Regions from separate parts of the Homo sapiens genome. Here region 1 is linked to region 2. The links come from fine-mapping of genetic effects on gene expression. A gene starts in region 2. The other region holds a variant in brackets. All regions are shown on one strand. Distances are from middle to middle. Region 1 overlaps NHSL2 (NHS like 2). Region 2 holds the start of RTL5 (retrotransposon Gag like 5).

The links.
Region 1: its variant is fine-mapped to the expression of RTL5 in gastroesophageal junction (GTEx, PIP above 0.99).

Annotation. Positions count from the first base shown.
Region 1 is chrX:72,097,876-72,103,244 of GRCh38, reverse strand. All of the region lies in intron 1 of NHSL2 (NHS like 2), which reads right to left. Among named protein-coding and RNA genes, the nearest start is that of RTL5, 31 kb to the left of the region's middle. RefSeq lists a silencer at 2,009-2,128. The variant C/T (reference allele first, on the strand shown) is at 2,621.
Region 2 is chrX:72,129,865-72,135,233 of GRCh38, reverse strand. It overlaps RTL5 (retrotransposon Gag like 5), which reads left to right and starts at 3,319. Exons shown (of 1, transcript NM_001405151.1): 1 at 3,319-5,369. The coding sequence starts at 3,694. It overlaps NHSL2 (NHS like 2), which reads right to left. Exons shown (of 8, transcript NM_001013627.3): 2 at 3,000-3,155; 3 at 1,016-1,143; 4 at 530-725. RefSeq lists silencers at 3,239-3,298, 3,459-3,528.

The DNA.
Region 1 (5,369 bases), 32 kb after region 2:
ATGGTGAGAACCTTCCCCCACTCCCTCCACTGTGGCCACTGCAGCTATCAGTTCCAAATCCAAGCTTTCCCAGGCGTGGGACTTTGCTAGGTCAAGAGGAGCTACCTGGGCTTGATAGCTGCCACTAGGGAGGGAAAAGTTGGCAAGAAGCTGTTTTTAGTTTCCTCCAGATGTCTGCTGGCCTAGGACCCTTTGGCTCTGTCCCCCGGGAAGGAATGTTTGTCCTAGGCAGCCTCTGCTTTGCTACTGGAGCTAGGGAGTGGGTACTCCCATCTGGGGCAAGAGAATGTGCCAACTCCTACTGTGCTTTTGCGGGTTAATCATTTCCAGGTAGGAGCTGTCACGAGTCACCCTGGTGTTCACCTCCATTGCTTTCCATGAACCAGTCTAGTTTCCTAAAAATACCTGCTCCCTATTTCCCAGGCCAAAATGCTCCAGGAAATGCCTGCAGCCCACGATTGTCAGATAAGTGGCTTCTTCTGTTAGTTTGACCTGTATTCTGATGAAAGGGATTACTAATACTGCAAGAAACAATATTCTGTGACTTACAAATTATATCTGTTAAGAATAATGAATACTTATATAGGGCTATTTATTATACTTTATAGTTTATAAAGGCTACTTTATATATTAGGTTGAACCATACAAATTTGCTGGCATTTAAATGCTTTGGACAGTTTCATAGGATTCAACCTAACACATTTTCTCATTTATTCCTCACCATAATGCTGGGTAGGTATTTTTAGCCCCATTTTACAGAGTAGAGTACTAAATCTTAAGAGTGGTGAAATGACTTTTGACTAAGATTATATATACAGGAAATAGCAGGGTTGAGACTTGAACTAAGTCTGTCTGATGCCAACTCTCATGCTCTTGGTTCTCGAGGTAGGATGATTCAGCCTGGAAGACCACTGCAAGGCTTCGAGACTCCTAGACTACCCTCAGGAATCCCCTGGCTGGTTTCTCTTGTCACCTTTTCTTAGTGGGAGAGATCAGCAGGTGCATAGATGCCTGCAAATAGAAGGTTCTAAAGTGATGAGGTGACAAGTTCTAGTTTTAAGGCTTTGGGAGCCCTGAGGAGGTACAACAAAGACAATATCCAAAGCATGTTAATTCACCCATGCATTTATCCGTCCAAGAGAATGCTACTGGGTAGCTCCCATGCACGTGACAGGCTCTGCACTAGGTGCTAAGTTAGTGCAGAGCCTAGGCTGCCAACATTCAGGGAAGAGGCTTAATCAGCAGGGCTTCTACGCTTTGGCCAGCCTCAGGAGGGGGCTGAAGCAGTAGAGGCTGGGGTGAGATCACCATGTGCATGGGACTTAGATTTCCTGTGACACTGCTCTGTCTTCCTAGCCCAGGCATGATTTGGGAGGCCACAGCTTGTGTGACCAAGCAGAAAGAAGCTGGGCTGTTGCCTGGTGCTTCAGGAGTCTGATACCACTGAGAGTTTCTAGGCTGCAGGGCTGGAGGAGGCAGCAGTAGGAAGGGAAAAGGAATGCTGGTGTTCCACTCCTCGGCCTGGTAATGGGGAAGCTGGCAGGTGGGGCCGATGAAAAAGAGCTCCCTCCCAGGCAGCCACAGGAGGAAATTCCTTTCTCCTGTGCCTAGCTGCTCTGAACCCTCGGCTCCACCATGGGGTTGGGTCTTGTAGCTGGCCAGCTTGGGGAGAAAAGGCTGGGGGAGGGCTCGTTTAGAACTTAGGCAGTGGGCATGCGACCGCCACCTTTGTTTGGGGACAGCATGTTGTCCCGTGGGAGATAATCACATTTCTCAGCTTCCTGTCAATCCAGGGGCCGAGCACCCAAGCCTGCTGTGGAGTCCAAATGCTTCCCAAACCTGGCCTGACTCAGGCCAGGGCAAAACTGGCTGCTCCACCTGTCCCCAGTGCTCTCCAGCCACCTGCCTCCTCCCATTCTGCCGACACCCACCCAGACACCAAACCCCGAGCTCAAACCCTGATGCGAGTCTTCTTGCAGGATGCAATTGAGCCCATGCTTACCATTCCAGGCTCTAAGCTGTGCCGCCATGGCTGTCACCACTGCCGCCCAGGAGCACAGTGGCTCTGGGGCCACAGAGTTAAGATCTCACAGTTGAGTAAGCCACAATGTGGGTTCTTCACACCACACCCTCCCCAACCACAGTGGTAGGGATTTCCTCAGAGCCCCGTTGCCACACACTCTGCTTTTGAAAAAAAAAAAAAAAAGGAAACAGGCATTGGGTTTTGAGTGTGATGAGACGCTGTGAACAGAGATGCCTCTGAAAGCAAAGAAAGGGGAACCTGTGACAGACCTCAGATAATCACCTCGTGAGCACTCAGGCTCTTTCTATATCTCTGTGGCCATGCTACGGCTTGTGGAAAGGCCAGGGCCATTTGTACAGCAATATGCCACATAATGGCATGTAAGTTAACACAGCAGTCCCCAACCTTTTTGGCACTAGGGACTGGTTTTGTGGAAGACAATTTCTCCACGGACTTGGGTGGGGGCATGGATTCAGGATGAAACTGTTCCACCTCAGATCATCAGGCATTAGTTAGATTCTTATAAGGAGCAAGTAATTGAGATCCCTCACATGCACAGCTCACAGTAGGGTTCCTGCTCCTATGAGAATCTAATGC[C/T]GCTGCTGATCTGACAGGAGGTGGAGCTCAGGCGGTAATGCTCGCCCGCCTGCCACTCACCTCCTGCTGTGTGACCCAGTTCTTAACAGGTCATGGACTGGTACGGGTCCATGGCCCAGGGGTTGAGGACCCCTGCTTAATGGACTGCATATATGACAACTGCATATATGACAGTGGCCCCATTAGATGATACCATAGTTTTGCTCTATCTTTTCTAGGTTTAGTTATGTTTAGATACACAGATAAGTACCATCGTGTTACAACTGCCTGTAGTATTCAGCACAGTCACGTGCTGTATGGGTTTGTAGCCTTGGAGCCATAGGCTGTACCATATAGCCTAGGTGTGCAGCAGGCTACACTATCTAGGTCTGTGTAAGTACACTCTATGATGTTTGCACAATGAGGAAATCACCTAATGACGCATTTCTCTCGTAGCGTATCCCCATTGTGAAGCGAGGCCTGACTGTACTTGGCTCGGCTGTTCTGGTCTGCACTCAACCAGCATACGTTGAATTTATTGGAGTCCACAAACCAAGACCCTGAGAAGCTTCATGAGTTGCCTTGAGTGGTGAAGTTGAGGATTTTGTCCTCAATGTCTGACCTTCTAATCCATTCCTACCAACCACAGAGACACACAGCTCAGGTGACATTTTGAATCTCTCTGCCTGCTCAACTTCCACTGTTCAATACGGTAGCCAGAAGCCACATGTGGCTCTTAAGCTCTTGAAATTGGCAGTCTGAACTGAAATGTGCTGGATGTGTAAAACATACACCAGATTTCAAAGACTGAATATGAAACAAAGAATGTAAAGTATCCCATTAATAATTTTTAATATTTGATTACATTGTAAGACACTATTTTTGATATATTGGAGTAAATTAAATATATTATTAAAATTAATTTCACCTTTTTCTTTTTACTTTTTAAATGTGGCTACTAGAAATGGGGATACTGGTGGCCGGCGTGGCGGCTCACGCCTGCAATCCCAGCACTTTGGGAGGCTGAGGTGGGTGGATCATGCGGTCAGGAGTTTGAGACCAGCCTGACCAATATGGTGAAATCCCATCTCTACTAAAAATACAAATAAAAAATTAGCCAGGTGTGGTGGTGGGGGCCTGTAATCCCAGCTACTCAGGAGGCTGAGGCAGGAGAATTGCTTGAACCCGGGAGGCAGAGGTTGCAGTGAGCCGAGAATGCACCACTGCACTCCAGCCTGGGTGACAGAGTGAGACTCCGTCTCAAAAAAAAAAAAAAAAAAAAAATTCCTACACAAGGGGATACTGGTGCCAAAATTGGCAAATAGATGAATGAAATAAAATAGTTCAAAACAAACTTATGTATATATGAGCATTTAGGATATAATAAAGGTGGCATTTCAAATCAGCTGGGGAGGGGAATGTAGCTACTAAGACAAAATTCAAAATTCCATAAGTGGCTGGCATTTGTGGCCCACATTATATTTCTATTGGATAGTGTGGTGCTAGACTTTCTATTTTACCTAAATGTCCATTAACAAGGGATGGGTTCCACACATCATGGTGCATCTACACAAGGGGATGATATGCAGCCATTAAGAAGAATGAAGGATATCTCTTTGAGTAGAAACTAGAAAACTGCAGAGTTATTGGTAAGTTGAAAAAAATGGGCAAGGAATGGGCCAGTATGTATTGTATGATCTCATTTGTGTATCAAAAGCACACAGATGCTTATATATGCACGGAATAAGTTTGCAAGGACACACAAGTAACTGTTATTCTAGATGATTTTGACATGTATGTTTCACTTGAAACTCTCCAGTACTATTTGAAATTTTAACAACAAACGTGTCATTTTACAATAACAAACCATTAAATATATTTATTTTCATATATTTAAAAATAACATATAATGGTTTACGTAACATAAAACTATTAAAATAAAAAATAAATAAAATAAAATTTTAAAAATCAGAGTTTCTATTATTCAATTCATAGCTTTATTTCTATTCCTCCACTTGTAAACACCCCTTTCAACTTCTTCTCTCTTTCTTTTTTTTTTTTTTTTGAGACGGAGTCTTGCTCTGTCACCCAGGCTGGGGTGCAGTGGCGCAATCTTCGCTCACTGCAAGCTCCGTCTCCCGGGTTCACGCCATTCTCCTGCCTCAGCCAGCTGAGTAGCTGGGACTACAGGCGCCCGCCACCACGCCCGGCTAATTTTTTTGTATTTTTAGTAGAGACGGGGTTTCACCGTGTTAGCCAGGATGGTCTCGGTCTCCTGACCTCGTGATCCACCCGTCTCGGCTTCCCAAAGTGCTGGGATTACAGGCGTGAGCCACCGCGCCCGGCCAACTTCCTCTTTCTTATTCCTCCCTTTCTGTCCTATTCTTTCCAAACCTTCTCTTTCCTCTCTCCTTCAAAACCCACAAGGGTCTATGAATGAGGAGCCATTCCACTTCTGTTGGCTCCCCTTGCTCAACTGCTGCCTCTGTCTTCCCGCCAAGGAAGAGCCTGAGGAAGGGCACCATGTTGGTTGGGTACTGCTCGATTCCAGACACAATAATCAAAGATGGCCGCTGTGGAGAAAGAGACCTACCTAGTGGAAATACATCCTACCATTTCTTCCTAGCAATTTTGCCACATTCATGTTAAGAGAGGGCTACACAGAAGAGAGGACAATAACTCAGTAAATTGTGTCTGTGTGTTTTTTTCTTTCCTGGTTCAAGGGTGGGTGGAGGCAGGGTAAATGCAGGAGGCACTGGAGAGAAGGTTT
Region 2 (5,369 bases):
AAACTTGCCAAACAAGTTGAAGAAGCCCACCTTGCTAGAAGACTAGTGTCCAGTGAAAGTGCTACCAGGCCTTTGGTCTGTGCCCAGGTGTACTCCTCCCTTGTTACCACCAGCACTCCAAACCCCACTCTCCTGCTCCGACTCTTATCAGTGTACTCCAAACCCAGCTCTGGGCACAAGAAGTTGTCTTGCCCTGACCCAAACAGAACTCACAAACTTTAAGTTTCCATAAGTGCTCTGAAGAGCACAGAAGTTCATAAGGCTTTGGAGCTTTCTGTTAAGAAAATTTTGCTTGCTATCAAATGGTCTCAGTTAGGGTGGCAGTGCCAGGAGGGGGTGAAGAAAGAGCAGCCAGCGCCCCCTCTTCTGCATGCCTCCGTTCCCTGGCAAGAGCCATGACCGTGACAGCGCAAGGTGAGCCGGTAGCAAAGAAAGTCTCACTTCCCTCCCCCAATACCCAGTGCATCAAAGAGGATGGTCTGTAGAGGCATGAAGGGAAGAAGACAAAGGCGGTGCTAAGCAACTCTACCAGAGATGTTGATGGGCACAATGTCAGACTGCGTGGAGCAAAGCTGAGGCCACCGCTTCTCCTCTAGGATGGGCAGAGGGAAAAGGCTATTCCAGGCAGTTTGCTTGTCGGCTGTGGTAGACAGGCTCAGGGAGGCCTCGGGGGCCCTCACACCCTGGGTGGTAGTCTCATCCTCGCTCAGCTGCCGTTTTGTAGGCTGTTGGGAGAGAAGGTGATGGAAAGGGTGTATTCCTGCCTGGCAATGAGCCAGTGCCCATAGGGTGGCTGTTTAGGCTGGGTAGTTGGAGGCTTCGTCTGGGAGGCAGGAAAGCGTGGACAGGCCACCAGGCCAGGCACCTGCTGTGCAGGGCCTATCCCAGTGGGGCCTCAGGGTAGCTCTGCTGGTGAGCAGGGCTGAGCAGCTTCCAGTGGGTAAAGTAAGCAGCTGGAGGTCTCTTGTCAGTGGGTGCATGCTGGCTCTCCCAGGTGGGGGATGAGGCAACTCACCATCAATATAAACTCCAGACGCCTGGCAGACTGGGGCCTTGGGTTGGGGGTGGGCTTAGTGGCCTCATCAGAAGAGCGGAAGGTCTGCCCCACAAGTCTGGCCTCCGAGTACTGTTCCTCATATTCTTCTGAAAAATAGCACAGTGGAGACACACACTCTAGGGTGCCATGGCCGAGCGCTGGGCCGGGGAAGGGCCATGAGCCAGGACTCCTGCTCTAGCTGCCAGGCCTGACTTGCATTTTCTTTAGGCTATTTCCAGGTGTTTGAGCCACTGGATTTGGAAATGGAAAAGTGCTTGCTTCCCAGGACCATGAGGATCGAGGAGAAGAGAAAGTCAATAAATTCATGCTGTGGTGGTTTGGGGACCAAGCCCTTATCTCAATGATCCCCACCTTGAGTGCTCAGTTACGAAAAGAGGCTCAGAATGCAGACACCTTTTGCTACTTTGGACTGCAAGTTCCTCTCTTTGAAGCCCTGCAGCTCTTAAGGTTTTCTGCGACCCTACCAAGGAAATGACCTGTGTGAAGCAAGAAGAGATTTACACCAGGAAGTCCAATCTGGAGTTCTTTCTTGGATGTCAAGAACTTTTACTTGAGCCTTTGTGGGCCGTGTTCCCTGCACCTTAGTCCCGCTGTAAGTGATGTCAGGTCTAGGAGGGCTAAGGTGAAGGAGAGGGAAGGAGGAGGTAACAGCATAAAAGAGGCAGAAGTTCAGCGGCATCATCAGTGAGTAAGGATGCACAAGATTTGAATAGGGTTGATTGAAGTGATGAATTTGATGAGAATACATGAAGAAAGTGAGAGTAGAGAAGGGACATTCATGCTGTATGTACACTGAACAAAGACTCAGAATCACAGAGATTTGGGGTTGCTCTTGGGGTTCTTTGGTCCAACGCCTCATTCTGTGCCCAGACTCCCTCCTCAGCAGCCCTTCTAGGTGTTTCTTCAGCCTCAGCGCACACACCTGCAGGGAAGGGGAGCTCCCTCCCTCCCAAGGCAGCTCATTTCTTCCACGGACAGTTGGGGCTGTCAGGTGTGTCAGAAAGTTCTTCCTTATCTGGAGGTGGAATGTGCCTCCTTCTGGGTTTCCACCCACTGGTCCTAATTCTGCCATGGTAGCAACACAGAGCACATCGACTCTTTTTCTGTGTGGCAAGTCCTTTGTTATCTGAACACAAGGCTCATGGTGTCCCTTGGCATCTTGCTTTTCCAAGGTCACCACTGCCCTGGTAGGGGGTGGGGGTTATGGCTGTCATCCTGTTGGTGGCCCATCAGCAGTTTTCTATTCGCCATTAGAGTTAACCTTTATTAGTATAGATAAAGGAGTGCTGACAAGACCTCTTTTCATGCTCAACATCCACTGAGCACCTCTTGGCAGGTGGGGAGGGAATCCAGCCTTGTGCCAGGTGCTTCTGGAAACCTAAGGGTAGCAAGATGTGATTCTTTACATCGAGAAGCTCAGGCTTGGTTAGGGGGGACAAAATAGGTGACCTCTGGGTGCTGTGTATTGGGCTTACTTTGGTGAGGCAGTAGCTATCCAGGGGTTATTGCAAGAGCAGAGTGAGTGAAGCCCAGAGTGGGAGATCCTGCAGATGCCCCCTTTGTCTTCTGGTGCCAGGATCCCAAAGGCATGGGCGATGTGGCAAGAGGGGGGCTGGAGGGAATGTAGGCCCACATTGTGGGAGTCTCCCACCCAGCTCTCGGTGAATGGCATAACTTATGGCCCTGCCTCAGTCTCTGTCCTTGTTTCCCCATGGGCTACTGAGCTGAAAAAAGGGGCTGGGGATGGGGGGAAACAGCCCTGGAAATAGCCTCTTTCAGAATCATTAGGCTGAAAGGTGAAAGCTGGAAACTGCTTTGTCGATTGTTTTTAAACTCTCTGTCTTTATCTTGCTGGTCCCTGTCCTCTTTCTTCTTTGCCTCCCTCCTGCCGCTGCGCATCTCGCTTCTGGGCTCCGGCCGCAGCCCCCCTCCCTCTCGGTACCTTGCAACAGGCTCTGGAGATTGAGCTGCGCCTCCCGAAGCAGCTCCTCTACACTCGGGGGCCTGCCCGAGGAGAGGAACACGTTCACTGGCTGTCGCCATGACGACCTCGAGTGGGCAGTCGCTGTCGCATTTTCCCGACCCGAGTTAGCTGCAGCTAGGGAAGGAGAGAGTCAGTGAGAGGCGCAGGCGAGCTGGAGGGGAGCGGCGCGCGGCGGCCAGTGGGCGCCCGCGGTTCCCCAAGGCCCGCCCCTGCGTGGGGTGGGGGGAGTGCGAGGCTGCGCTTAAAAGGCGGGGAATCGCCGGCCGCAAGATTTTTCCTCGACAGATCCTGCCGCAGTCCGCTCCCTCCCGCTCCGCTCGCCCCTGCCCGCCCGCCCGCCCGGTCGCGCGGTCGCCGCCGCCACCGTGTCGCCCGCATCCTCCGCCTGGCGCCTCCGGGCCCCGTGCCTCCGCCCGCCCTCTCCGGCCCCGGCGACGAGGTAACGCGCCCTGGGCCGAGCCGCCGGGCCCTCCGCCCAGAGCGCCGCCCTCCGAGCTCGCCCCGGTGGGTGTGGCCCGGCCTGGCCCGTGCCCCGCTGCCGCACTTCGGTCCCTCCCGAGCCCCGCCGCCGCATTTCGGCCTCCTCCGGCCGCCCGTAGTTCCAGTTCCCCTTTCCCCACCACGGAGCCCCAGGGCCCCTGGGCTTGTCGAGATGTCTGAGGCGTCAGGAAATCTCAACAGCCTCCGCATGGCGAATGTGGCCCTGCGCGAAGAATTAAATGCCCTTCGCGGGGAGAATGCCAATTTGGGCCTCCAGCTCGGGAGAGCCCTGGCCGAGGTTAATTCCTTGCGGGGCAATGTCTCCAGCTACATCCGCTGGCCAGTACCCATAGTGCCCGTCCTTGCGGAGGAGAACTTGGAGTTCGCGCTCAGTGAGATCGAAGTCATTCCCGGGGGAGAACTGCCCTTCTTGTGCCGGCCTCCCCCACGCGCGGAGCCCGACTGTATCTCGGATGATCTTTTGATTAACGTGATCCAGGATCGCAGCACCCCCGACGGGCCCGCTGACCCCCCTCTGCTGCCCATCCCGCCCCCGCCGGCGCTGCCTCCGCCCGCGTCAAAGGAACCGCCCCCGCAACCCCCTCTGGCACCGCTGGAGCGGCCTGAGATAGAGCCCTTTTCAGGAGACCCAGTCTACCTGGCTGAATTCCTGATGCAGCTAGAGACCTTCATAGCCGACCATGAGGTTCATTTCCCCGGGGGCGCCGAGCGGGTGGCCTTTCTGATCTCCTTTTTCACTGGCGAAGCCAAGGACTGGGCCATCTCGGTCACCCAGGAAGGAAGCCCCTTGCATGCCAACTTCCCGCGCTTCCTGGATGAAATCCGTAAGGAATTCTGTGGCCCCATCCCCCCACGTGTGGCTAAAAAGGCCATTCGCAAGCTCAAGCAGGGCCACTGTACCCTCGGCAGCTATGCAGATGCTTTTCAGTTCCTGGCCCAATTCTTGTCTTGGGATGACTGCCGCCTCCAAAACCAATTCCTCAAAGGCCTGTCGGAATTCTTCCGCAAAGAGCTCTTATGGTCAACAGAAATGGCCGACCTGGATGAGCTGATTCTCGAATGTGTGGAGATAGAAAGAAAAGTGCGCGTTCCCAAGCCTATCCCGCTCCCTGGAGTTCGAAATATCATCTTCCCTTTTGCTCCGAGTCCCAATGAGGAAGAAAGTGAAGATGAAGAGTACTACAGTGAAGATGAAGACCAAGAGGCACGCAGGCACAGGCTTCACTCCAAGGACCAGAGGAAGCGCATGAGGGCTTTTCAGCAAGAGATGAAGGAGAAGGAGGAGGAGGAGATGAAGAAGGAGGAAGAAATGAAGAAGAAGGAAGAGAAGGAGGAGGAGGAGGAAGAGGAAATGAAACAGAAAGAGGAGGAGGAGGAGATAAGGAACAAGAATGAGGAGGAAGGAGAGAGTAAGGATGAAGAAGATGAAGATGAGGATGGGGGCCAGAAACCAGAAGGAGAGCCACAGCAGGATCCAGGGACTGAGGAGACCTATGGTGAGGTGGAGGAGGAGCCACTGGATGAGGCCCAAGATGATGACCTAGATGAGCTGATGGAGATGGAGCCGACCTTTGTTCACGCGTCATCCCAGACTTCTGGCCCCACAAGTGGTTACCACGCCGAAAACTTCCTGGGTGCATCACCTCCCATAATACAGCCTAGCAGACGGAGGAACCAGAATCGAGTCCCACTTCTGGAAGGCCTTCCAGGCACCAATTCACCATTCTACAGCTCCCCCCAACTGATTCGCCGCACAGGTCGTTTAGGACAACGCCAAGTTCGAAGACGCCCCCCTGTGCTTTTCCGCCTCACTCCGAGACAGGGGGG